Regions from separate parts of the Homo sapiens genome. Here all the other regions are linked to region 2. The links come from fine-mapping of genetic effects on gene expression. A gene starts in region 2. Each other region holds a variant in brackets. All regions are shown on one strand. Distances are between the middles of the regions.

What was found. PIP is the estimated chance that this variant, and not a neighbour inherited with it, causes the effect.
Region 1: its variant is fine-mapped to the expression of NINJ2-AS1 in whole blood (INTERVAL, PIP 0.98).
Region 3: its variant is fine-mapped to the expression of NINJ2-AS1 in Th17 cells (Schmiedel 2018, PIP 0.95).

What each region holds. Positions count from the first base shown.
Region 1 is chr12:587,124-595,300 of GRCh38, forward strand. The region is part of intron 1 of NINJ2 (ninjurin 2); the gene reads right to left. It also overlaps the pseudogene RNU7-103P. Among named protein-coding and RNA genes, the nearest start is that of NINJ2-AS1, 40 kb to the right of the region's middle. The variant C/T (reference allele first, on the strand shown) is at 3,950.
Region 2 is chr12:626,566-634,742 of GRCh38, forward strand. NINJ2-AS1 (NINJ2 antisense RNA 1) reads left to right here and starts at 4,326. Exons shown (of 5, transcript NR_122124.1): 1 at 4,326-4,420; 2 at 5,649-5,682; 3 at 5,944-6,051. All of the region lies in intron 1 of NINJ2 (ninjurin 2), which reads right to left. RefSeq lists silencers at 4,112-4,191, 4,252-4,351.
Region 3 is chr12:557,022-565,198 of GRCh38, forward strand. B4GALNT3 (beta-1,4-N-acetyl-galactosaminyltransferase 3) reads left to right here. Exons shown (of 20, transcript NM_173593.4): 16 at 587-740; 17 at 995-1,067; 18 at 1,487-1,640; 19 at 2,274-2,400; 20 at 4,322-6,488. The coding sequence ends at 4,430. It overlaps NINJ2 (ninjurin 2), which reads right to left. Exons shown (of 4, transcript NM_016533.6): 4 at 7,275-7,660. Among named protein-coding and RNA genes, the nearest start is that of NINJ2-AS1, 70 kb to the right of the region's middle. RefSeq lists an enhancer at 5,728-6,229. The variant C/T (reference allele first, on the strand shown) is at 4,484.

The DNA of each region.
Region 1 (8,177 bases), 39 kb before region 2:
CCCTTCCTGTGGAGCATCTCTGCCAGGGTTCAATAGTATTGGACTAGAGTCCTGATCTGGGTCAACAAAAAGACTAGGGGACCAGGAGGCAAGAGTCAGCTCACCAGGACGGGCTGCAAACGGGGAGGTCTGCATCCAGGGTGAAGCTGCCCCTCCACAGGAAGCAGGCCCAGGAACCCCTGGCAATGCAGACAGGCTGAACCCACAGCACAGCCCCCATGGCGGGAGCAACTCCCGGTCAAGCGGCGGCAGGAAGTGCCCCAAAGGTGTCCACTTTTATTGTGCAGGACAGAATGTCTGCACATGCACCATCTTACAGAATTTGCACAGCTGCCTAAGGACAGAAGCTGAGGCTGCATTGTAAGGACACGCAAAGGGAGCCCCAGAGGACTGAAGTCCCTTTCTTAGGGCTCCTCAGGCTCTCTGACCAGTGAAGTTCTACAGCTGGGAGGGGAGCTGGGCTTTCCTAGTCTTGGCCCGATGCTTGTGGTCTGGCCTCTGACCACTCTCCATCTCACCCTGCCCAGCGCTGAGCCATTCTTCCCTGCCCCGGGGCCTCTGTGCAGGTGGGGGGTGGGGGTGGCCAGGGACCCTGCGCCTCACAGGCAGGTCACCAGGATCTGTAGAGCAGATTGAACACCCCATCCCCCGTGTTTGAAATGCCCTCTGGGCCCTTCCTCGCCGTCCACCCAGGAAGCTCTTCCTTCCATTAAGCTGGTTATTTCCACCACAGGGCCTTGGTGACACCTCTCACCTGATCACTATCCGTTCTCTCACTGGACGGTGAACTCCTTCAGGGTAGGAGCCGTAGTATGAGGCTGGCACTTACTGATAACTAGTAGTTGTTTTATCCATGAAGGGAGGGGACGACCTACACAGGCCTACACTTTAGGCATGACACGACAGCCAACATAGTCCCCAGACCAGTGTATCATCCTTCCACTATGTAAACACAGATAGGTTTCCCCTTGAAAAAAATTCCCACTATGTGAAAAGCCAAATCAATTTACAAGACAGCAAAATGGCGGAAGGAAGGGAAGGGACGGAAGGGACGGAAGGGACGGAAGGGACGGAGGGGACGGAAGGGACGGAGGGGACGGAAGGGACAGAAGGGAGGGAAGGGAGGAGGAGACATCTTGCAAATGGACTCCCCGCAGACTCCTTCAAATAGTCCCCTTTGTGAATCTCTTTCTAATCTTAGAATGAGGAAAACCTTTATAACTATGACATCAAATCCGGAAGCCATAAAGGATTAATACATTTGACTGCATAAAATTAAAATTATTTGAATGCAAAATAATAATAGCATATACACTTATAGCGCTCATTTCATGTCAAACCCTGCACAGAACACTTTATATATCTGAAGTCGTGTCATTCTCATAACAATCCCTGGGATAAGTACTGTCCTTATCTAAGGGACTCTGAGGTTAAGTAACTAAACTATGGTCATTCAGCCAGTAAGTTACAGACAAAACCCAGTAGCCTGCCTTCAGAGTGTGTGCTCCAGCCATTTCCTCGACCACCACACACCACACAAAATCAGGAGACAAAGAGAAACGGGGGGAACACTGCTGCACAGAGCACAAAGGACTGATTATCCTGAAGTCTGTGGAGGCCTTAAAAATGAGCCAACAGAAAAACTGAGTACAAACAAGCAAGCCCCTGAAGAAACATCACAAATCTGTGTAATAGATATGATAGCCTACATGATTGGCGAAGACTTAAGAGACTGATAATACTCAGTGTTGGTGAAGACATGGCTAAGCAAGCACTTTCACGTCCTTGGTAGAAATGTAAATTACTACCAAACGTACCAGAATTGTTACAATCATTTTTTTTTGGAGGACAATCTGACAATTATCTATTAAAATTTAAAATAGTCTTACCTAGTAAGTCCACTTCTAGGAGTCTCCCACAGAATAAGTCTCCCACAGAAAATGCTCCCCAAAGCTCAAAAAGACAAGCTATTCCATGCATCATTATTGATAATGTCAAAAACTGGGAATGAGCCAAATTGTAATCAAGGGTGTGTGGGCTAAATAAGCTGGCCTACAACCACACAATTAAATACTACATGTGTCTTTGAAAAGAGAGAGGTGTTCTTGTTCAATCAGTAAAAAACAATGGACAAAATGAAACAAAACAAAAAGAATGAGGTAGATCCCTATGATTAGATACAGAAGATATCTAAAATGTATTTAGTGGGGAGCAAGTCAGTAAGAACATGATATGATTCTATATTGGTAAAAATGAAACAAAGTATTCAGAGGATCTACTTTATATTTCAATGCATTAGAATAAGCACAGGAAACAGATATGGGAGGAATTTCTATCACACTAAAGACTTTCCCTTTCTTTCTAAGTTATGTATTTTCCCAATTGTAGGTTGTTTTCTCATGGGAGTTTGGTTTCAGTAAAAACCAGAGAACCTGCTAGACAAATTCTAGAAGAGCTCTAACACTTCCACTTCTAATTTTTCACACCTAAGACATCATCCTGTTACAATCAGGAAAAATATAATAAAGATGAAATTAAATATGCGATAAATAGCAAAAAACACCTTCCCTGTTTCTTTCTTTCTTCTACAAGCATGTGCTGGGTATGCCTCCTGAGTCCTAGGCACTGATGTCTCAGGCTGGGCATGCAGAGACGAATCCATATGGCTCCTGCTCTCAAGAAACTTCTGGAAGGGGGGAAACAGTTGGTAAATTTAGGGGGGGATTGTCTCCTGGACTCAGTTTTCCTCCGTGGGGTGAGGCAGATGGGCTGCTGTGGCAGCCGTCTCAGAGAGGGCGGGGTCTCCCTGTCAGGACCCAAGGGGTCCTAGGGTACAGGTGGAAGGCAGAGGTGGAGCGGTGTGGGGCAGCGGATCAGGGAGGGGCTGATGAGGCACTTAGGCTTTGTCCTGAGGGCAGCAGGGAGCAGTAGGAAGGTTATCCGCAGCCAGTGGCATCCTTAGAGCAGCGTCTTATTTTTTATTTTCGTTATTTTCTGTAGAGACGGTGTCTTGCTATATTGCACAGGCTGGTCTGGAATCCTGGTCCCAAACAAGTGGTCCTCCTGCCTCAGCCTCCCAATGTGCTGTAGCAGCATTTTAGCAGGACCATGATGGAAGCGGCTCGAAGGATGGGCTGGAGCGGAGAGCCACGCGCGGGAGCCCTGCTGGAGGTCTGCAGCACAGCATTGGCAGTGGGTATAAAAATGGGACTGCCCCAAGAGAGGGTGAGGAAACAGAACTGGCAGGACTGGGTGAGCGATTGGATGCTGAGGGTGGGGAAAGGGAGGGGTGGAAGACGACACCCTGTGCCTCTGGCTGGGTGGCAACTTTGTGCCTTCATAGTCTAAAAACGCACCCTCAGCGTTGCAGCCCCAATAGGACTCAGTTGATGAACAACTTTCCAGGAACGTGGCTCTTGTGTGAAAGGGGCACCTGCGGGAACCTGCACAGATGCAGCTGCCTGGTGGGATTACAGCAGTCCGCCCAGCCACTGCCCAGGGCGCCTGGAAGCCTGTCAAGGGCATAGTCCTTTGTGGCTGATGCTTACAGCTGATCAGAACCCAGGACACTAGCACTTACTATCAAGGTTATAGGGAGGCTGATGCTTACAGCTGATCAGAACCCAGGACACTAGCACTTACTATCAAGGTTATAGGGAGGCTGATGCTTACAGCTGATCAGAACCCAGGACACTAGCACTTACTATCAAGGTTACTGGGAGGCTGATGCTTACAGCTGATCAGAACCCAGGACACTAGCACTTACTATCAAGGTTATAGGGAGGCTGATGCTTACAGCTGATCAGAACCCAGGACACTAGCACTTACTATCAAGGTTACTGGGAGGCTGATGCTTACAGCTGATCAGAACCCAGGACACTAGCACTTACTATCAAGGTTATAGGGAGGCTGATGCTTACAGCTGATCAGAATCCAGGACACTAGCACT[C/T]ACTATCAAGGTTATAGGGAGGTGGCAGAGAAAAGAAGTTCAGCGAGAGTGGTGCCTCTTTTCAAAATGGTATGACAGTCCCTAGGTTCTCTGGCTCCTGTTTCTGGATTCAGTGCTGTGAGGGCCTCTCACCATCATGTGGTCTGTGTGAACCAACCATCAGGGCAGTTTAGGTACTGCAGGGTGTTGGGGCCCCAGTCCTTAGCAGGGTTCAAGCAGCGGGTGCCATGCCTAGATCTTACAATTCCCGGCAGCATCTCCCTTCACCTCCTGCTTGCTGAGAGCACTTTGGTGGGCAGAAATAGCCCTGTCACTCATGCCCAGCTGCACACACGTCAACAACCTGGGGCTGTGCGCTCTCCTGATGCAAGGTCCTTTCTGCTAGTCATGACTACTAAGACCTGCTGCCCAGGACTGAGTGCTGATTCACCTACTAGGTTGGTCAGAGGGTTGGGGGCAACTCTGATTGCAGAAGCTCTCTGGATGGGCAGTGCTAGCGGAGTTCCATAGAGCTGGTCTTAAAAGCAGGGGCCTTTTGGCTGAGCTCCGAGTCCCTGGAGGGACAGTGTCTGCTGTGAACAGATGTCACGGAGGGAGCAGTGCAGTGTCACCAGTCTGGCTTCTCGCCCCAGGTCCCTTGGGCACGTCTTATCTTATCGTGCAGCTGGGCTGGGGGTGCTGCCAGACTTTGTGGGAGCTGGCTGCAAGGGCCAAGGGTGTTTCTTTAGAGATATTTCTCAGGTTCTGGGCCTCATTAGAACAGGAAAGCCTTCTGAAAGAGTGACGTGGCCGGCGGCAGGTATGGTGTGTGACTTAACTAGTCAATTTTGAGCAAACAGAGGCCCCCAGGCGTTTTTCCCGGGTCACTCCCTTTGCCCCTCCTGCTCTGCTCATCCTTCCAACTGCTCCTTTAGCCTGAAGGCCTGGAGCCCCAGCCGCCAGGCTGTAGCCAAACGCATATCTTGTTTGCATTCTCGGTGAACTTACCATTAATCTGTGACAGATGAAAAATAGGAACTTTGAAGCCAGAATGGGGTCAAGTCTGGCTTTACTGCCTGCTGCTAGGTGACCTTGAACAAGCTAAGTTGTCTGAGCCATAGTGTCCCCAAGTGCAAAATGGGATAAAAGATAGTCCCTACCTCACTGGGCTGCTGCGACAACAGTAGGGCACACATAAAACAGTTAGGTGTCTCCTAGATAACATGAGGGAGTCATCGTCATTGCCGGAGGGATTCAGAGTGGACCCGTCACGGTACATTCTTGTGAATATCCAACAAACAGGTGTTGAACAAATGGAGAAAGATATTAGACACAGATTACGAAGAAACAGAATAACTAGCTTCTCTGGCCAGGAGCGGTGGCTCACTCCTGTAATCCCAGCACTTTGGGAAGTCGAGGCTGGCGGATCACTTGAGGTTAGGAGTTCAAGACCAGCCTGGCCAACGTGGTGAAACCCCGTCTTTACTGAAAATACAAAATTAGCCGGGCGAGGTGGCGCATGCCTGTAATCCCAGCTACTTGGGAGGCTGAGGCAGGAGAATCGCTTGAACCCAGGAGGTGGAGGTTGCAGTGAGCCAAGATTGTGCCATTGCCCTCCAGCCTGGGCACCAAAAGAAAAACTCCATCTCAAAATTTAAAAAAAAATCAATTACAAATTATTTGGTTAGTTGTAAGAAGCAGAACATACTAAGGAATGTAGTCCAAGTCCAAGCTCTGTTCAGGGATAAATACTGTCATTATAAAAATTAGTGAAAATAAGCCAACTGAAATTCATCTCAGAAAAGTTATGAAAAGACAATAAAACACACCTTAGGAAAACAGCAAGGAAGAACAAAATTAAGATAATTACAGAAATTTGTGAGTTACAAGGCTATCAGTAGATTGAGTAAATGAAACTATGGAATGGATTTTTTTAAAGAAAAGTAAAATAAATCCTTTCCCTAAAAATGCAATCAAGAAAAAAACAGGGAAAAAAAATGAACAGACAAAAGTAGAGTGGATACAGATGTTATAAATATAGTAGGAAAGAAGATTTTTTAATGGAAAAAATCCAGAAATCTATGTTAAATATAGGAACCATTCTCAATTTATTAGGTTCACTGCAATACTAACTGGGTGTAATGACTACATTGTTCATTTGGTAAAGTATTAAAGCACAATTACTAAGAACTCTTAGGGGAAGAAAAGAATAAGAAGGCAAGAATTTCCCTGCAATACATCAACATTTACTACTCAGTCAACTTTGAAACAGATCTGAAAACCTAGCGATTGTTAAAGAAGCATCACAGGCAGGGCGCAGTGGCTCATGCCTGTGATGAAGCTCCCAGCTTCATCAGAAATTTGTGAGTTACAAGGATATCAGTAGATGAAGCTCCCATCTTCATCACAGCTTCCCAGCACTGTGGGACGCTGAGGTAGGAGGATCACTTAAGCCCAGGAGGTTGAGACTAGCCTGGGCAACAGGGCAAAACCCTGTCTCTACAAAAAATAAAATTAGCCAGGCGTGGTGGTGCAGGCCTGTAGTTCCAGCTACTCAAGAGGCTGAGGTGGGAGGAGCGCTTGAGCCCAGGAGGTTGAGGCTGCAGTGAACCGTGAGTGTGCCACTGCCTCCAGCCTGGATGACAGAGTGAGACCCTGTCTCAAAAAGGAGGAGGAGGAGCAGAAGGAGGAGGAGGAAGAGGATGAGGAGAAGGAGGAAGAGGAGGAGGAAGTGGAAGAATAAGAGGAAGAAAGAAAAGAAGAAGAAGAAGCAGCAGCAGCAACAGCAGCAGCATCACCAACTTATCAGGGAAGGGGGCAAATTATTTATCAAATAAATTACAAATAGCTTAAATAAAAGTAAAAAAGAAATGATAGAGGGAAACTTCCTCAACTTGATAAAGAATATCTACAAAAAACCTGTGGCTAACATCACACTTAATGGTAAAAAACTAAGAGCTTTTCCACGAAGACAGGGAACAAGGCAAGACATCCCCTCTCACCACTCCCTTTCAACATCATACTGGAACTCCAGGCTAACGCAATAAGATGAGAAAAAAATGTATACAGATTGGGAAGAAAGAAACAAGATTGCCTTTGTTCACAGATGACAAGATTGTCTATGTAGAAAATTGAAAATAATAAAGAAAATCGAAAATAATAAAGAAAATCCCTGGAACTAATAAGCAAGTATTACAAGGTTGCAGGATACAAGGTTAATATAAAAAAGTCCATTGTTTTCCTATAGATCATCAATGAATAAGTGGAATCTGAAATTAAATACACAATGCCATTACATTAGTCCTCAAAAAATCAACTACTCATGTACTCCATAAATATGTACAGATATTATGTATCAATAAAAATGAACTACTTACATATAAATCTAACAAAATAATTACAAGATCTATGTGAGGAAAACTACAAAACTCTGATGAAAGAAACCAAAGAACTGGGCCAGGTGCTGTGGCTCATGACTGTAATTCCAACACTTTGGGAGGCGAAGGTGGGTGAATCACTTGAGTCCGGGAGTTCACAACCACCCTGGGCAATATAGCAAGATCCCATCTCAATTTTTTTTAAAAAACAAAAACAAAACAAAAAAAAGGAAGAAAAGGAAGAAACAAAACAACTGAATAAATAGAGAGCTATTCTATGTTCATGAATAGAAAGACTCAATATTTGTCAAGACATCGGTTCTTCCTAACTTGATCTATAGATTCAATGCAATCCCAATCAAAATCCCAGCAAGTTATTTTGTAGATATCAACAAACCGATTCTAAAGTTTACATAGAGAGGCAAAAGATGTAGAATAGCCAACTCAATATTAAAGGAAAAAAATAAAGTCAGAGGACTGACACCACCCGACTTCAAGACTTATTTAATACAAAGCTACAGTAATCAACACAGTGTGATATTATCAAAAGGATAGACAAGTAGATCAATGGAACAGAATATAGAGTCCAGAAATAGACCCACATAAATAGAGTCAACTGATCTTTGACAAAGGAGCACAGATAATACAATGTAGCAAAGATACTCTTTTCAACTAATTGTGCTGTAATAACTGGACATCCACATGCAAAAAGAAAAAAAAAAGAATCTAGACACAGACCTACACGCTTCGCAAAAGTTAACTCAAAATGGATCATAGATCTGCATGTAAAACACAAAACTATAAAACTCCTGGACAGTAGCATAGGAGGAAATCTAGATGATGTAACGTAACATAGGATAGGATGACACAGG
Region 2 (8,177 bases):
CTTAAAAGAGTTTCACTCTAGCTGAACATAAAAGGTGAAACACAGAAGAAATATGGCACTGTAGTTAAGGGTATAAACAATGGAGTCAGGGTGCCTGGTTCAAATCCTGGCTTTCTCACTAGCTGACACGAGGCAGTCAACCTTTCTGCACCTTAGTTTCCTTATCTCTAAAGTAGGAATAATAATAATAATAGTATCTACCAAATGGGGTACTATTAAGAGTTAAATAAAATAACTTAGCTTGGTGCTGTAGCTTGCGCCTATAATCCCAGCACTTTGAGAGGTTGAGGCGGGAGGATTGCTTGAGCCCAGGAGTTCAAGACCAGCCCGGGCAGCATAGTGAGATCCTGTCTCTACAAAAATTAAAAGAGTACGCAGGTGTGGTAAGACATGCCTGCAGTTACAGCTACTCAAAAGGCTGAGACGGAAAGGTTGTCTGAGCCTAGGAGTTCGAGGTTGCAGTGAGCTATGATTGTACCACTGAACACCGGCCTGGGTGACAGAGCCAGACCCCATCTCAAAAAAAAATTCAATAGAATAATTTGTGTAAAGTGCTAAATACAGTAATGGCCCATAGCAAGCACCTAATAACTGTTAACTATTATTTTTGAATTAAATCATAGCATCCAACCTGAAAAGCAATATATGGCAATAAGGAATTTTCTAGGCCATGCCTTTAGAATTTTTATCATCCTTTTAGAATTGAAGCTTCTTGTTAGAAGATTCTGTCCTGTATTTTCATGGATGCCCCAACAGCCACCCTCCCTGCCTTGCAATCAAACAGGTGCTCAAATATTTTTTGAGAATATAATTAAGTACATTTCTACTTTCTAATTTCTAAATGAATGAAATAGAGAACTAGGAAACTTAGGACAGTAAGACTGATGTCAGCTGGGCAATCAGAGAAGGCTTCATGGAGGAGGTGAGACTGACGTAGCCCTTGACAAGTTCGATAGGATTTAGATGGATAAAGTGAAGCAAGGAAAATTCTAATTATTGGAGCCTCGAATGGGTTGGGTGTTCATGAGAGGCAGGGGCAGACTTCGTGGGTACAGCTGCAGCATACTGCACACACATTAAGGGTGGCACCTCTGTGCCCAGACCTGGGCTTAAGTGGAACCAGACTCGCCTGGGACAGACTTTGGGCGCAGTGACAGGAGCCCATCAGCTGCTCAAGAGACCCCTGCCAAAATCTCAACTGGAGCTGGGCACAGTGGCGCATGCCTGTAATCCCTGGGCACAGTGGTGCATGCCTGTAATCCCAGCTACTTGCGTGCCTGAGGCAGGAGAACCCGGGAAGTGGAGGTTGCAGTGAGCTGAAATTGGGCCACTGCACTCCAGCCTGAGCGATAGAGCGAGACTCCGTCTCAAAAAGAAAAAAAAAGTCTCAATCAGCTAGGCCAAGTCCTTCCTGTCCTGTCCCTGTCCCTGCCGCATCCTCCCCGCCCTGCCCCCGGCTCCTCTTTCACACCCTGTGCCAGACAGAAGGCCTGGGAGTGAAAAGACTGGCCATGGGGACAGAGAGCTGGATCCAAAGGTCAAGGCTGAGTTTGCCAGAGCCTGCAGGATCCCTGCACCGCTTTACTGGATCCCCAGGTTGAGCTGAGATGCTGCTCTGGGTGGAGAAGGGGCCATGAGCCTCTGGCAGGCCTCTGTGTCACACCTTTCCACCAGGGAAAACTGGGTGTGGATGTTTCCCCTTCGTATGTACTCTGAGATCTCTATGAGGAGTCTTCCTAGAGGGGAAGGGGGAAGCCTCCTCATAGAGATCTCAGAGTACATAGGAAGGAGCCAGGTCTTTCCGTTCTTCTGCGTCTCCTCACAGCGTCACCTACAAGGGTCTGGCACACAGTGGACACTCTTCCTGGCTTTTCTGGTACAGAGTGACCAACATAACAGTTAATAGCATTTCCTCATTTTACAGACAGGGAAAGCAAAAAACATAAGCATGGTAATGCATATATAATACGTGTCTATGGCAGAGGCATTCGAACCAGAATGACTCCATCTTGAATAGGGGCTGGTAAAATGAGGCTGAGACCTGCTAGGTGGCATTCCCAGGAGGTTAGGCATTCTTAGTCACAGGATGAGATAGGAGGTCAGCACAAGACACAGGTCACAAAGGCCCTGCTGATAAAGCAGGATGCAGTAAGGAAGCCTGCCAAAACCCACCAAAACCAAGATGGCAATGAAAGTGACCACTGGTTGTCCTCACTGCTCAGTATATGCCAATTATACATTAGCATGCTAAGAGACACTCCCACCAGCACCATGGCAGTTTACAAATGCCATGGCAACACCTGGAAATTATCCTATATGGTCTAAAAGAAGGAGGAGTCCTCAACTGGGGGAGGGGGAAAATCTCCATCTCCTTCCCAAAAAGCTCATGAATAACCCACCCCTTGTTTAGCATATGATCAAGAAATAACCATAAAAATAGCCAACCAGCAGCCCTCAGGGTTGCTTTGCCTATAGAGTAGCCATTCTCGTGTTTCTTTACTTGTCTAGCAAACTCGCTTTCACTTTACTTCATGGACTAGCCCAGAGTTCTTGTACAAGATCCGAAAAACCCTCTCTTGGGGTCTGGATCGGGACCCCTTTCTGGCAATGATACCCTCTTATTGTGGTAATTCATTTAATCCTCACAATGATCCTCTGAGGTAGGTGCCATTATTATCTTCATTTTACATGTGGGAAAACTGAAGCCGGAAGGATGAACAGCTTCCCAAGTTCACCGAAGGAGTAAGTGGTCCACAGGACTAGGAGCCTGGGATTTGCACCGAGGCAGTCTGGCTCTGTTCTCCATTGGCCACTGCGATGCCACCTGGGTGGAGGGAGCACAGGTCCAATGGCGGGGAGAGTACAGTACAACCCAGGATCCTGTCTTCCAGGTCTCTCCACGCAATTAACCTACTCAAAACTTCATGACAGTCCAGCAAGCTTGTCCAACCCACAGCCTGTGGGCCCCGTGCAGCCCAGGACGGCTTTGAACGCGGCCCAAAACAAATTCGTAAATTGTCTTAAAACATTATGAGTTCTTGGTTGGGCATGGTGGCTCACGCCTGTAATCCCAGCACTTTGGGAGGCCGAGGCAGGTGGATCACCTGAGGTCAGGAGTTTGAGACCAGCCTGACCAACATGGAGAAACCTCGTCTCTACTAAAAATGCAAAATTAACCAGGCCTGGTGGCGCATGCCTGTAATCCCAGCTACTCAGGAGACTGAGGCAGGAGAATCACTTGAACCTGGGAGGCAGAGGTTGTGGTGAGCCGAGATCGTGCCGTTGCACTCCAGCCTCGGCGACAAGAGCAAAACTCAAAAAAAAAAAAAAAATATATATATATATATATATATATATGAAGTTTCTTTGCGATTTTTTAAAAGTGTATCAGCCATTGTTAGTGTTGCTGTATTTTATGTGTGGGGCAAGACAATTCTTCCAATGTGGCCCAGGGAAACAAAACAATTGGACACCCTGGATGATGAAAAAGAGCACTCTTCAGCCCCTGCTGTCACCAAAGCCCCACCTCAGTTCTTGCCCTTAGGTAACGCCAAGATAGCAAAATGGAATTTTACCAAACCGCTCTTAGGTTCCTTCCCCAGGAGACCAGAAATGCCCTGGGGACTGCCTGCCTTTGAGGCAAATTTTTTTTCCTTTTTAAAGAAAGTGGTAAACATCTGAAAATAGAGTTTTTGAAAGAAAGTGACTCTTCAGTTGTAATTATAGCAGAGAGGGTCATTGCTTTCTATCAGCAAGAAAGCTGCTTCTATTTTTTTTTATTCTCTTTTTCTTGGTTTTTTGTTTTGTTTTGTTTTGTTTTGTTTTTTGAGACGGAGTCTCGCTGAGTTGCCCAGGCTGGAGTGCAGTGGTGTGATCTCGGCTCACTGCAAGCTCCATCTCCCGGGTTCAAGCGATTCTCCTGCCTCAGCCTCCCGAGTAGCTGGGACTGCAGGCTCCGGCCACCACGCCTGGCTAATTTTTTTTGTATTTTTAGCACAGACGGAGTTTCACCATGTTGACAGGCTGGTCTCGAACTCCTGGCCTCAGGTGATCTGCCCGCCTCGGCCCCCCAAAATGCTGGGATCACAGGCGTGAGCCACCGCTCCCCGCCGCTGCTTCTAAATACAGCCTGTATAATGCAAATCCCCAAAGAGGGCCAGCCTCTGGCCCCATTCAGCTTCCTCCCTCAGAGGCTGGGTGCGTGCGCCCTGGGCGGGGCGGCGGGCTCCCTCCGGAGAGGCCCCAGCCCGGCCTCGTGCCCCTCCCCAGCAGGCTTCCGGCCCTGCGCACAGACCCAAATGGCGCGGGAGGAGGAAGAAGGGGTCAGCTTCAAGCCTGACGTTCTAGGGGGGAGCCGCTTCTTAAGTACGTGCTAGGATCAAGGGTGCATTTGCAAACTTTTCAAAATGCCTTAGAGGAGGTAGGAGTCAAGCCCTTGGGATCTGGAGGGGAAGGAGGAGAGTCAGTTAAACCGCAGAAAGGTTGGTGGGGAGTGGGCTCAGTAATGGCCCCTGTCACAGCCTCGGGCCGGGACTCGCCAGCTCATTTTCTATTTCTAACTCAATGCCAGGCACTGAGCACTGTGCTCAACCTAGTAATTTGGAGACGGAGGTGGATATGCATATAACAGAACAGGATGCTCTCCGGACAAACGTTCTGAAGGAAAAGCAAACGGAAGATCCTCCCGCCTCTGCTGGGCAGTCTCTAATGACCCCTGGGGTATGTTCCAGACATGCGTGGGCATCTGCGAATTTACTCACCTGAGAGCTGCCTCTACCTTTTTTTGTTAAATTTTTATTTATTTATTTATTTATTTTGAGACGGAGTCTCCCTCTGTCACCAGGCGGGAGTGCAGTGGCGTGATCTCTGCTCAATGCAACCTCCGCCTCCCGGGCTCAAGCGATTCTGCTGCCTCAGCCTCCCGAGTAGCTGGGAGTACAGGCGCGCGCCACCACGCCCAGCTAATTTTTATATTTTTAGTACAGACGGGGTTTCACCATGTTGGCCAGGATGGTTTCTATCTCTTGACCTCGTGATCCGCCTGCCTCGGCCTCCAAAGTGCTGGGATTACAGGCGTGAGCCACCGCGCCTGGCCTGCCTCTACCTCTGATCCCTGGGATCAGAAATGAGAAATGCAAAGATTGTCCCTGTGTTATGTGTGTACTGTTTGTAATTGTAATTCACAATCCCCTTTCTTGCTCCTCACCCCATATTCAATTAAGAGAGAAAGGTGAAAAACACAAAGCACAAAATGTTTCCAGGAAACTATCTGAAACTCCTGGAAGGCTAGATTTAGGTATAAACAGAGTAGAACTCCAGATTTCTGCAATGCTCCTTAGGGGCTGAGCTTCCTGCATGCCCTTGACAATTAGAGGAGTTTTTTTTAATACTTCAAAATTATTCCAGAAAGGCATGCAGATGAGAAGATAACCAGGTTATGAGGAAGCCCAAGGTATTTGGTAAGGATGCTCAAGTTTTGGGGAAGGTCAGCTGAAATAGCAATTTGTGGGTGGACTATTAGCAGGGAGTTGACTGGAGAATTAATCAGACGTTGAAGGGACATGGGGGACCCGGGAGGATGAAGTCTGAACTCGGGCTCAGGATATGGAAAAAGATTGAGTAAAGCTGAGATTCCTGTGTGCTTAAAGTCCTAACCAGCCCCAGGGTGTCTGAGGCACGCTGGTAAGTAGAATCAGAGATTCCATTCAGCAAAAGCAGACAGGAAAACAAATCTCTTTTCTTTGTTTGTCCTGGTTGAAAACCAAACACGGTAGCCGTTTGATGAAATTCCAGTGTCAGGAGTGTTTGGGCAGGGAAGGGAGGGTAAAATTGCAGCTAGCCTCTGACCACAGGGAAATCAGCCTAACGGCTCCATTCAGGCCATTCTTCAGCCCTGCACTCTGGAATGTTCACAGGGTGTCTGTGCATCTCCCCTGATTCCAGCCCACAGGACACTTGCTCTCTCTTTCTTGTGACCCCAACATGTCAGCTGGCAAGACTCAACATTCCTGTCTGGGACTGAGCAGCTTGAACCACTTGTATGAGTCACAGGTAATTTTCAGCAGTGTGAGAAAACACTGAATGAAGAGAAGTACTAGGTCCTGAGGAGGCTTAGCTCTGGGGTAATGGAGATGGGGGTGGGGGTGGAGAGAGGGTTCTAAAGGTCAACTGCAATGTCCCCCAGTTTTCATGTATCTTCATCAACATAGACAAATCCCAGCGGATCTAAGCTTTTGAAAACTTGACCTTTTGTAAAAATGAGGAAACTGAAGTTATAGCCCTTTCTGGAGTGTGGAAGCTTTGGAAACATCGCACCACAGTGAAGCAAGCCGGGGAGGGTGCCAGCCCAAACCAGAACCAAGTGTGGGCATTTCATGCCATGAACACAAAAGGTTAGTGGGCCGGGTTGAGCTTGGGCAAGATCTCACAAGATCTTAGATCCAGTGTATTTTCTGTCAGTAGATTTCAATCAGAAAGGTCGTGAAATATACCTCAGCCTGGCATTGGGCTTGGGGCAAAGATCTAGGACTTTCTTTTCCAGGGAAGTTCTCTGAGAACTGAATCAATTCCTGCCCTCTAATCTATCTTGCATCCCTTCCTGAACCAACCTCCCTAAAACTGTGCCCCACTCCTCCATTAAAAAAAAACAAGGCCGGGCGCGGTGGCTCACACCTGTAATCCTAGCTCTTTGGGAGGCCGAGGTGGATGGATCACCTGAAGTCAGCAGTTCAAGACCAACTTGGCCAACATGGTGAAACCCTGTCTCTACTAAAAATACAAAAATTAGCCAGACATGGTGGCACGTGCCTGTAATCCCAGCTACCCGGGTTGCTGAGGCAGGCGAATCACTGGTTCCACCAGGAGGTGGACGCTGCAGTGAGCCGAGATGGTGCCACTGCATTCCAGCCTGGGCAACAGAAAGAGACTGTCTCCAAAAAAAAAAAATCATGTCATTTAAAAACTTCTGAGGCTGGGCCCAGTGGCCCATGCCCGTAATCCCAGCACTTTGGGAGGCTGAGGCAGGCAGATCACTTGAGGCCAGGAGTTCAAGACCAGCCTGGCCAACACGGCAAAATCCCGTCTCTACTAAAATACAAAAATTAGCTGAGCGTGGTGCCACATGCCTGTAGTCCCAGCTACTCAGGAGGCTGAGGCAGGAGAATCATTTGAACCCAGGAGGTGGAGGTTGCAGTGAGCCAAGACTGCCCCACTGCACTCTATCCTGGGTAACAGAGTGAGATTGTGTAAAAAAAACAAACCACTTTAGAGTTTTCCACTGTCTGCTAAATCAAGTACACATTCCTTTGCCTGGTTATTTAAAAATCCCCCATAATTCGGCCCCACCCCACCTATCCAGTTGTGCTTTCCCCCACACACACCGTCTGATCTGGTCAGAAAGGCCTTTGCACTGTCCCAGATAGCTTACTCATTCCTGCCTGTTTCATTCCCAGTTTTCTCCACATTCATTCCTGAATCTGAATTTATTCTTCTTTAACAAAACCAAAAGACCCTACCTTAGGATATTTGGCCAACTACTTCAGTTTGCATTTCTCCTTCTCCAAGTAATTACCAAGTCACGCCTTGATATATATACCTCCCCCAATAGACTATAAGCCACCATGAGTTCAGCACAACTTATGTAAGTTATAGTGCCTCACATAAGTTGTGCTCACTAAATAAATGTTGATTAGTTGCAGTTCTTTTTTTTTTTTTTTTTTTTTTTTTGCACTGTCTCCCGGGCTGGAGTACAATGGCACGATCTCGGCTCACTGCAACCTCCGCCTCCCAGGTTCACACGATTCTCCTGCCTCAGCCCCCCTAGTAGCTGGGATTACTGGCGCCCACCACCACAGCCGGCTAATTTTTTGTATTTTTAGTAGAGACGGAATTTCACCATGTTGGCCAGAATGGTCTTGAACTTCTGACCTCGTGATCCGCCTGCTTCGGCCTCCTAAAGTGCTGGGATTACAGGCATGGGCCACCGCGCCCGGCCTAGTTGCAGTTCTTTTTCTTCTGCAGTAAAGGCCAAACACACACAAAATCAGTCTCCTCCCAATCCTGACTTGCATCCTCTAAGTTTAGTAGCACAGAGAGAAAATGTAGAGAATGGTCGTACCCAAGATATTAAGGGGGGATGAGTTCAAGACAAAATAAAATGTTTGCCCAACGCTGACATT
Region 3 (8,177 bases), 70 kb before region 2:
GGTTTAAGGTTATGTGGCTAGTAAATGTTGCCGCTAAAAACAAACACTGCCTCATAGGCCAGTGCTCTTTCTTTCGTACTAGGTTTCAGGATTGGGTGTGATAACTGGGGTTGCTAACACTGGGGATGATCATTGGTCTGGGGAAGTAAGACGGGCAGCGTACTTAATGAAGTGATGAGCAGGGTTTTATATGAGAAGGAGGAACACACAACAGGCAGAAGTGTAACAACAGAGGTAGGATGATGGGGATAGGACGACGATACTAAGAGGGACAGATAACAGGGTTTCACTAGTAGAGCGTGGCAGGGCTACTGACAATGAGCCCCAGCCAAGGCCTTCTCGTGGGTCCCCTGCCTGGGAGGAGGGAACGTGGGGAGCAGGATGCAGAGGCCCCCTTAACTGGTGAGCACTCCCTCTGCCTCATGTCTCTGTGCTGCACTGCTAATGGTTTTGCAGAGTTGCACTGTCCCCTCAGCCGAGGTCCGATGGGCACTCCTGACTCACCTGGGAGCTGGGGGTGGAGGCGCTCATCCGCTCATCTTTGCCTTGTCTGTGTTTCCTTCTCCTGCCTGACCCCCTGGGGTAGTGAAGAACCAGGCACGCTGGGTACAGCAATTCATCAAAGACATGGAAAACCTGTTCCAGGTCACCGGTGACCCACACTTCAACATCGTCATCACTGACTATAGCAGTGAGGACATGGATGTTGAGATGGCACTGAAGAGGTCCAAGCTGCGGAGGTGAGGGGGACCACCAGCCAGGGGGTGGCATGGGCCACGTCCATCCTAAAGTCCTAGGGCTGCTGGGTCCAGGGTAGAGCCAGGAGTCCTGCCCAGCCTTCCTGATTCCTAGTCTCCAACTTTTCCCAGAGGGCTCACCTGCCCATAATCCCATCCCAGGAGCACACATCATCTCTCTTCTATGCCTGCCAACTTCCTCCAGGGGACCACCGCAGCTGAGTCCTGATACGCAGCCCTCTCTCCCCTTCCTGCAGCTACCAGTACGTGAAGCTAAGTGGAAACTTTGAACGCTCAGCTGGACTTCAGGCTGGCATAGACCTCGTGAAGGTAAAGGGCCTGGATGGGGCCTGCGAGATGGAATTCAAGGCTGGTTAAGAGGTAGAGAGACATTTGGGGTAAATGAGGTGGTGAGCCCCTCAGGGAGGACGGGAATGAGGACACAGGAGGTCCTCTCTGCTGTGCTGCAGGCCAGTGCTAGGGTGGGACCAGCAAATCACAGTGGAGCATTTGCCCAGTTGTCCAGGGTCCTTGGAGCCTATAAAGAGTGGGGAGGAGTCAGAATTCACTCTGATGGTTAAGACCTGTGCTCCAATGTTCAGCACTGTGGAACTCTGCCCAGCAGCTGGTTTTGTGGGAGTTTGTGAATCACTCCAATAGGGAAGACTCCGAGGCTTCTCCTAGACGGCGACCTGACCTCCTAGCTCTGGTCTGCAGGGTCTGCTGACCCTGCCCACATCTGTCCCCAGGACCCGCACAGCATCATCTTCCTCTGTGACCTCCACATCCACTTCCCAGCTGGAGTCATCGATGCCATTCGGAAGCACTGTGTGGAGGGAAAGATGGCCTTTGCCCCCATGGTGATGAGGCTGCATTGTGGGGCCACCCCCCAGTGGCCTGAGGGTGAGCCCTGCTCAGACTGGGGAGGGAGGAAAGACTTCTCTGATCTTGGCTCTTAACTCCAGAGCTGGGAACAGTCATATCTATGAGCGTCAGCATCCTCCTCCCCTGCCCCACCCTGCCCTCCTGTGGCCTTCACTCCCCGGAAAACTCACCAGACAAGGTCCCCTTGGGCTGAGCTGACAGCCACAGCAGCAGGTGCAGCAGTGCACACCTCCTGCGCCGTCTTCTCCTTGATTCATTCATCACACACTTACTAAGCACTGCTGTGTGCCAGATGCTCTGCCCTGTGGGGATTCAAAGATGGGAAAGGTAGCCTCCCTGCCTGTGGAAAGGGAAACGGACATGTAAACTGACACACAGCTGTGTCTTCTGTGGCTGCCGCTGTCCGATCCATTTGTAGGGTTGTTATCAGCCCATGGGCACAGCCTGGTAGCACTGCTGAGCCCTGAACCTTAGTTAGGGGTCTTTCCTCCAAAACAGGCAAAGTACTTGTTCAGCTAAGACAGTTTTCAGCCTCCCTCAACCCCAGCCTCTGACTTTCAGAAGAGCCTCTAGGCACACAGCCTGGAAGCCTCCTTCCTTCCTCCTCCTGGCCTCTGGCTCATCTCACCCGAAGCTCCTGTCTGTCCACAGGCTACTGGGAGGTGAATGGGTTCGGGCTGCTTGGCATCTACAAGTCTGACCTGGACAGGATTGGGGGCATGAACACCAAGGAGTTCCGAGACCGCTGGGGCGGGGAAGACTGGGAGCTGCTGGACAGGTGACTGGGAAGAGGAGGGCATCCACGAGGCCTGGGAATTCCATGGCGCTCCAGGCAGGGAGCCAGGCTACAGCAGCCTAGCTGTCCCCCTCGGCCGCAGAGTCCCAAAGCACAGTAAAGAGCACTGGACTCGGAGGACGCCCTCAAATCACCGGCCTCGCTGGGACTCAGTTTCTCTATTAGAGGGGTGTGACTCGCCCTCTGTCTGTGTCACAGGGTTGGTGTGAAAATTAACATGCCTGGTACACCGTGTACCAGGTACACCAAGCTGTGTAGACATAAACCATGATGTTCTCAGCACCAAGCAGGGCACCGTGGGAGAGACTGCATCCTCCCCAGCCCGAGGGTAGTGCGCCTCCCGTCAGCTGCCGAGCGGGGAGCCCAGAGTTGTGGGAATGGATAAGTAGACCTGGCAAAGGTCAGGAAAGACTTTGGGGCCAGCAGAAGAGACAGTGTAGACCACTGAAGGGCAAGAGGACATCCAGGAGGTGCCGGGTCATGAGACACCAAGGGACCTGGGGGTTTGGAGCAGGAGGAAAGGGTCAATGAGATGAAAAGCCTCAGAGAAGAACACAGTACAAGCTGCTGCCTTGGCAGGTGGACAAGGAGAGCAAGATTGGGCAGGGACACCAGGCCATGGGTGGTGAGGAGGCGGAGGCTGTTCCGTGTGAGGTTCCTCTTTCAAGAAATGTGCTGCCAAGAGAAGGGGCAGAGAGAGGATGGTGCCTTGAGATCTGAGCCTATGGTGAGGGAGCAAAGGAGAGGGGAGGGTACCCTTCAGAAGGGCATAAGCGCTGTAACAGCGTCCACAGGAGGTGGACAGGGCAAGGTCAGGAGCACTGGGGGCGGGACCTCGACACGAAGACACGCTCACTTCTTCCCGAGAGGCAGGACAAAATGCATCCACCAGTCACTGGGTCCCTATACATGGCCGGCCATCCACATCCGTTACCTCGTTTATTTCTCCCCAGACCTCAGTGAGGTCGGCATCATGATCTCCATTTTCCAGATGAGAAGACTGAGTCTTGAAGAGAAGTTAATAACTTGCCCCAAATCTCACTCACTTAAGCGTTAGAGGCTTGAAAACTAGGTCTATTGGTGTTTTTTCCCGTTGAGGGAAGAAAGAAAAGGAAGGTGACACACTAAGAGAATTCGAGTGAAAAGGGGGAAGGTAAAGGAACGTAGATAACTGGGAGCTCATAAAAAGGGTCTGAGATCAAAGGAGCCCCCAGGGCAGCTGGAAGCCTTGATTTGGGAAGCCGGGTCCAGCAGTCACCTCCACCTTGATCTCTGTGCTGGGCTTTTGCTGCCATGCACGGCTCCTGTACAGCCCTGAACCTCCTGCCTCCTCGGAGGCTCAGGCATCCAGTTCGGCCACTCTCAGCCCTGCCAGAAGTGCAGCCTCCCTGTGAGAGGGACACCCTGCAGGCTGCACATGCACAAAAGGCCTGGGGAGGGCCTAGGCGCCAGGTGTCTCAGTGCAGCAGCCCTGCCTTCCTCCGTCTATGACGTGTGCCCTGGAGGCTGGGCGCCAGTTATGGGGCACTCAGAGTGTGCCAGGAGCCGTGCTGAGCCCTCAGCATCCATCCTTCTCGTCTTCCCCACCTCTGATGTGTATATAGTATGTCTACTCTAATATTAGATAGATAGAATTCTATATCACACATTATCCTCTCATTACACGTATGTGATAATCGTCCTCCTAGAGATGAGCAGACAGGCTCTGAAAGAAGGCGTGACATACCCAGTCATGCAGCTGGGATCCAAACCCAGGCTGCCTGGCTTCAAAGCCCACAGCCGTCCACTGCACCTGCCTTCCCTGCCCCGTGGGGAGCGAACAGAGGGTCTGTGGTCGATGGGGAGGGGCCCCCCAGCTGCCTTCTGTGCTTCTGTTGGCTCATCTGTGTTTCTCCTCCTCCAGGATACTCCAAGCGGGCCTGGACGTGGAGCGTCTCTCCCTCAGGAATTTCTTCCATCATTTCCATTCCAAGCGAGGCATGTGGAGCCGTCGCCAGATGAAGACGCTGTAGCCGGAGGGTGTCCGCGGGGCCCAGCACTCCCCGCTCTGGACTAGCAGTGGCTC[C/T]CCAGGGCCCTGCTACTGTTCAGGGATGGGGAGTGGGGTGACGGCTGGACCCCAAGAGGCCTCGAAGCTGACGGCCCACTCCACCTGGAGCTGTCCCCTCACAGAGGCAGGTTCCGGGGCTCCTGTCTCTGCCTCCTGGGCCTTCAGAAGGGAGGACTTTGAGAGAGAGGCCAGGAGGGACCACTTGCTCAGTCGAGAACGGGAAGAGCTCCTGAGAAGGACGGGTCAGGAAGGAGAGATCTGACTGAGCGACACCATCCTCATCCATGAAGGTGCACGCCCACATCCCCCAAGCGCTCCTCACGCCAAGCGCTGACCACCAGACCCTCTTCTAGTGGACATATTTTATTGGGGGGCGGGGATTTTAAAAACAGAAAACCGAAACTGCTGTCCAGAGCGGGGGTGAGGTTGTGCACTGAGGGACTGTCCCCACGTGCAGGCCTCCCGCCCACTCCTATGTCCCTTGGGCGTTGTCCCTGGCCGCGGGACTGGTCCCACGTGGGGCAGGTCTCTGCTCCACCCCAGGCTCGTGCCTTCCAGAGACACACATCTCCCAGTAGCCACCAAACAGCTGGCCACTGATTAGGGCATTAACTTCCTCCGGATGGCTCACGTCAGACCAGAAGCACAGAACGGGCTGTTTCTGGTGCTTGGGCATTGGGAGGTGGGGAGCTGGCGGGCAGGGGGCTTGCCACTCCCTGGCACTGGACATTGAGGCCTGCAGAACAGGCAGGGTGATGAAGGCAGGGGAGAGAAGCCCTTTCCCTTACCGGCGTGCCTGTGGGTAAGGCCTCCCGAGAGGACATGGAGAAGAGGTAAAGAGGATGTGGACATATCTGTCAATTTCCTTAGGCAAGAAGCGGGTGGGGGCTGGACAGAAAGGGACGAAAAGGGAAGTGGAAGCTGTGAGCCTCACAGTCCAGCTCCACTGCAGACCTGCCCTTCTGCAGGGAGAGCCCTGGCCACCCGGCCTTGAGTGGAAGAAGAGGAAAGGGTGTACGGGGGCAAAACCCTGGACAGGGAGCAGGATAAGAAGGGGGCGGGATGAGAGGTTTGGGGAGGTGAGGACATTGCCCTGAGATATCCCCTGGAGGCAGGGAGAGGAGTGGGGGCAGGAGGAACTGAAGAGGGGGGCAGTTTCAGGGAAAATAGCCCTTAGCCTTTTTAGTCGATGCCACCCTTTCTGTCACCTGGAGACCTTGTACTTCTCTTGCACTAATAACCCCGGTGCTTTTGTGGCTGGGGGTTTTTCTGTTGCTGCTGCTGCCTCCACCACTGCTGTGAATTCACCCATGGTGCATTGGACACTGGATCTTGAACTCCAGAGTCTGTTTAGGGAGGTGAGCACAGGGCTGGGGGAGGTGCGGCGGGGCCCAGAAGACCAGGCCACTGAGCCCGCGCTCCAGGCTGTGACGGTCCAAACCACGGCACTGGAGCTGCAGGGTCTGCCTAGTGGGCTCTGCATTCCCCGAGAGCACGAGTTTGGCACATGGGAGAATGGAGCCCGTGGAGAACCTTCTGGGGGGTCGGGGAGAATCCCTGCCTCCCTTTAAGGAATCATGAAGGACAGAGACTTTTGAGATTGTGGCTTAGGAAGGCCATACCTGCTCCCTGGGCTGTGGCTTTTTCTGGTCCCTGCTGAGGCCGACTGGCCCCTGGAGAAGGATGGTGGGGCATAGGCTAGGGCTGCAGTTGGCCAGTGGGGCTGCCAGTTTCTTTCTGGGACCACTCTCGTCCTCGGGCATTGCACTGGAAGGCTGGAACCAGCCCAAACTGCCCACCTGCTTCACTTCCAATGACTAGGAGCCAGCCCAGCCTCCTGCCCTGCCCACACCCCTGCGCCCTGGGCCAGTGCCTTGCGTTTGATGTTACCTCCACACCATCTGCCTTAAGAGGAAGGGCCGGGCAAGGCCCCTACTCCCTAGAGAAATGTCTTGGGTAGGAGAGGGTGTGGGATGGTGGGAGGGGAAGCATTAAATACAGCAACTTCTTAGAAAAAAAAAAAGGTGCTTGTCTTTTCCTGTTGCTCTTCACGGATGTAAAGGATTGGGCTGAGGGGCCCAGGTGGGCGTGCCAAGGACCCTCCCACACCACCCTCCACCCTTACCACAAGTGTGATGCCTGCTGTGTGTGAGATGGCCTTCTCTGCACTGCGGTTTACTCAGGAAGAAGACAACATTGTTCCTGTCTGAGCAGCTCACCGTGTAATAGACTAGGCATTTTCTGTTCAGCAGATTAATGGAGGTTGGTGGTTTTAGCCGAGGAAAGCTATGGATACGCTGGGTGGAGAAGGCTAGATATAGGGCCAGAACGGTTTGGTGAGCAGTGGAGAGAAGCCAACGAGTGGCTGCTTCTAAACTGGCAGACCTTCTAAAAATCATTTCTGTTTCTGAGTTGGCAATGCTTTGCTAATGCTTTACAGATTTACCTTCCTCGTTATATTTGGCCCAGGCAAAGATCAAAATGAGTTTGCAGTCCTTAAACACATGCCTAAGGGAAGCTGAGACTGAAAGCCAGAATAGCTTACAGCAGGTTCGTGGAGAAGATTGTGCATATGTGCATCCACCTGCAATGGACTAATCTACAGTTCATGGGGCAGATGACGATAAGCGCAAGACATCTGGGCCAGGAACATTGGCTCCGAGCAGAACCCACAGAGGAGGAAGTAATTTAAAAGCCTTCCCACCCTCCAGGTCTGGGGTTTGCTCTCTTGAGCCCTCTCCAAGGCACAGATGGAGACCAGCCTGGATGCCTGAGCCTGCAGGACTAGACAAGTAAGTGGACTCAAGAGTGGATTTGAAGAAACCTTTATAGATATAGATTCCATTTTACAAGAAGGGAAAATTGAGGCCTGGAGCAGAAGGAAGCAGTGGGGTAGAGTCAGAACCAGCATCCTTAAGCCGGGCAGACTTGGCCTTAGACAGACATGCCTTACTTAGGTCCAGCAGATGCTACCAGGAAGGTATGGCTGGCAGTACCTGCGTCTGAGCTCAGGACTTCAGACCAAGATGGAAGTCCCTTAGACCAATAACATAAAAATCACTTTTTAACTCAGGTGCTGTGGGTAGGGAGCAAGGGCAGCTATACTGTCCTTTCAGAAGCTCTCCTGGGCTGTGGAAAGTGCCCACGAGCCTGGCAGATCACGGAGGAAGGAGGCAGAAGTTCCAGGCCCAGAACCTGTTGAGGAAGCAGAGAAGAGGCAATGAGGATGGCAGGCCAGATCAATGCCCCTCAACCTTCAGCATGCCCAGGATGCACCTGGCCACGTTACTCATGCACGTGCCTGTAGCACGTGCTCGAGCAGAGCCTGAGATTCTGCATTTCCAGCAAGTTCCTGGGTGGTTTGTGGATGCTGCTGACCCATGGACCACAGTCAGTAGCAAGAGCTGCTAGACAATGGCAGGGAGAAATTCCCCATCTCCACCTTTCCTCTTGCCGGAGGGGCAGAGTCAACCACTAATGGCATCGCCTCCACCCTGTCCCAGACCGTGGGAAAACCTGAGCCTGAGAGCAGAGAGCCATTAACACAGCAGTGGGGCTTTGTGCAAGCCTCGCTGAGGCCAGGCTCTTGCAGATCCTCTCCTTGCTCTCGGAGCTACAGGCCTTCCCCCTTTGTTTGGCAAGGGATCTGTTTCTTGCCCCAAAGCCCCAGAGGAGAGAGAAGGGCCACCTGGGGAGTCCCTGGAGCTGGGGT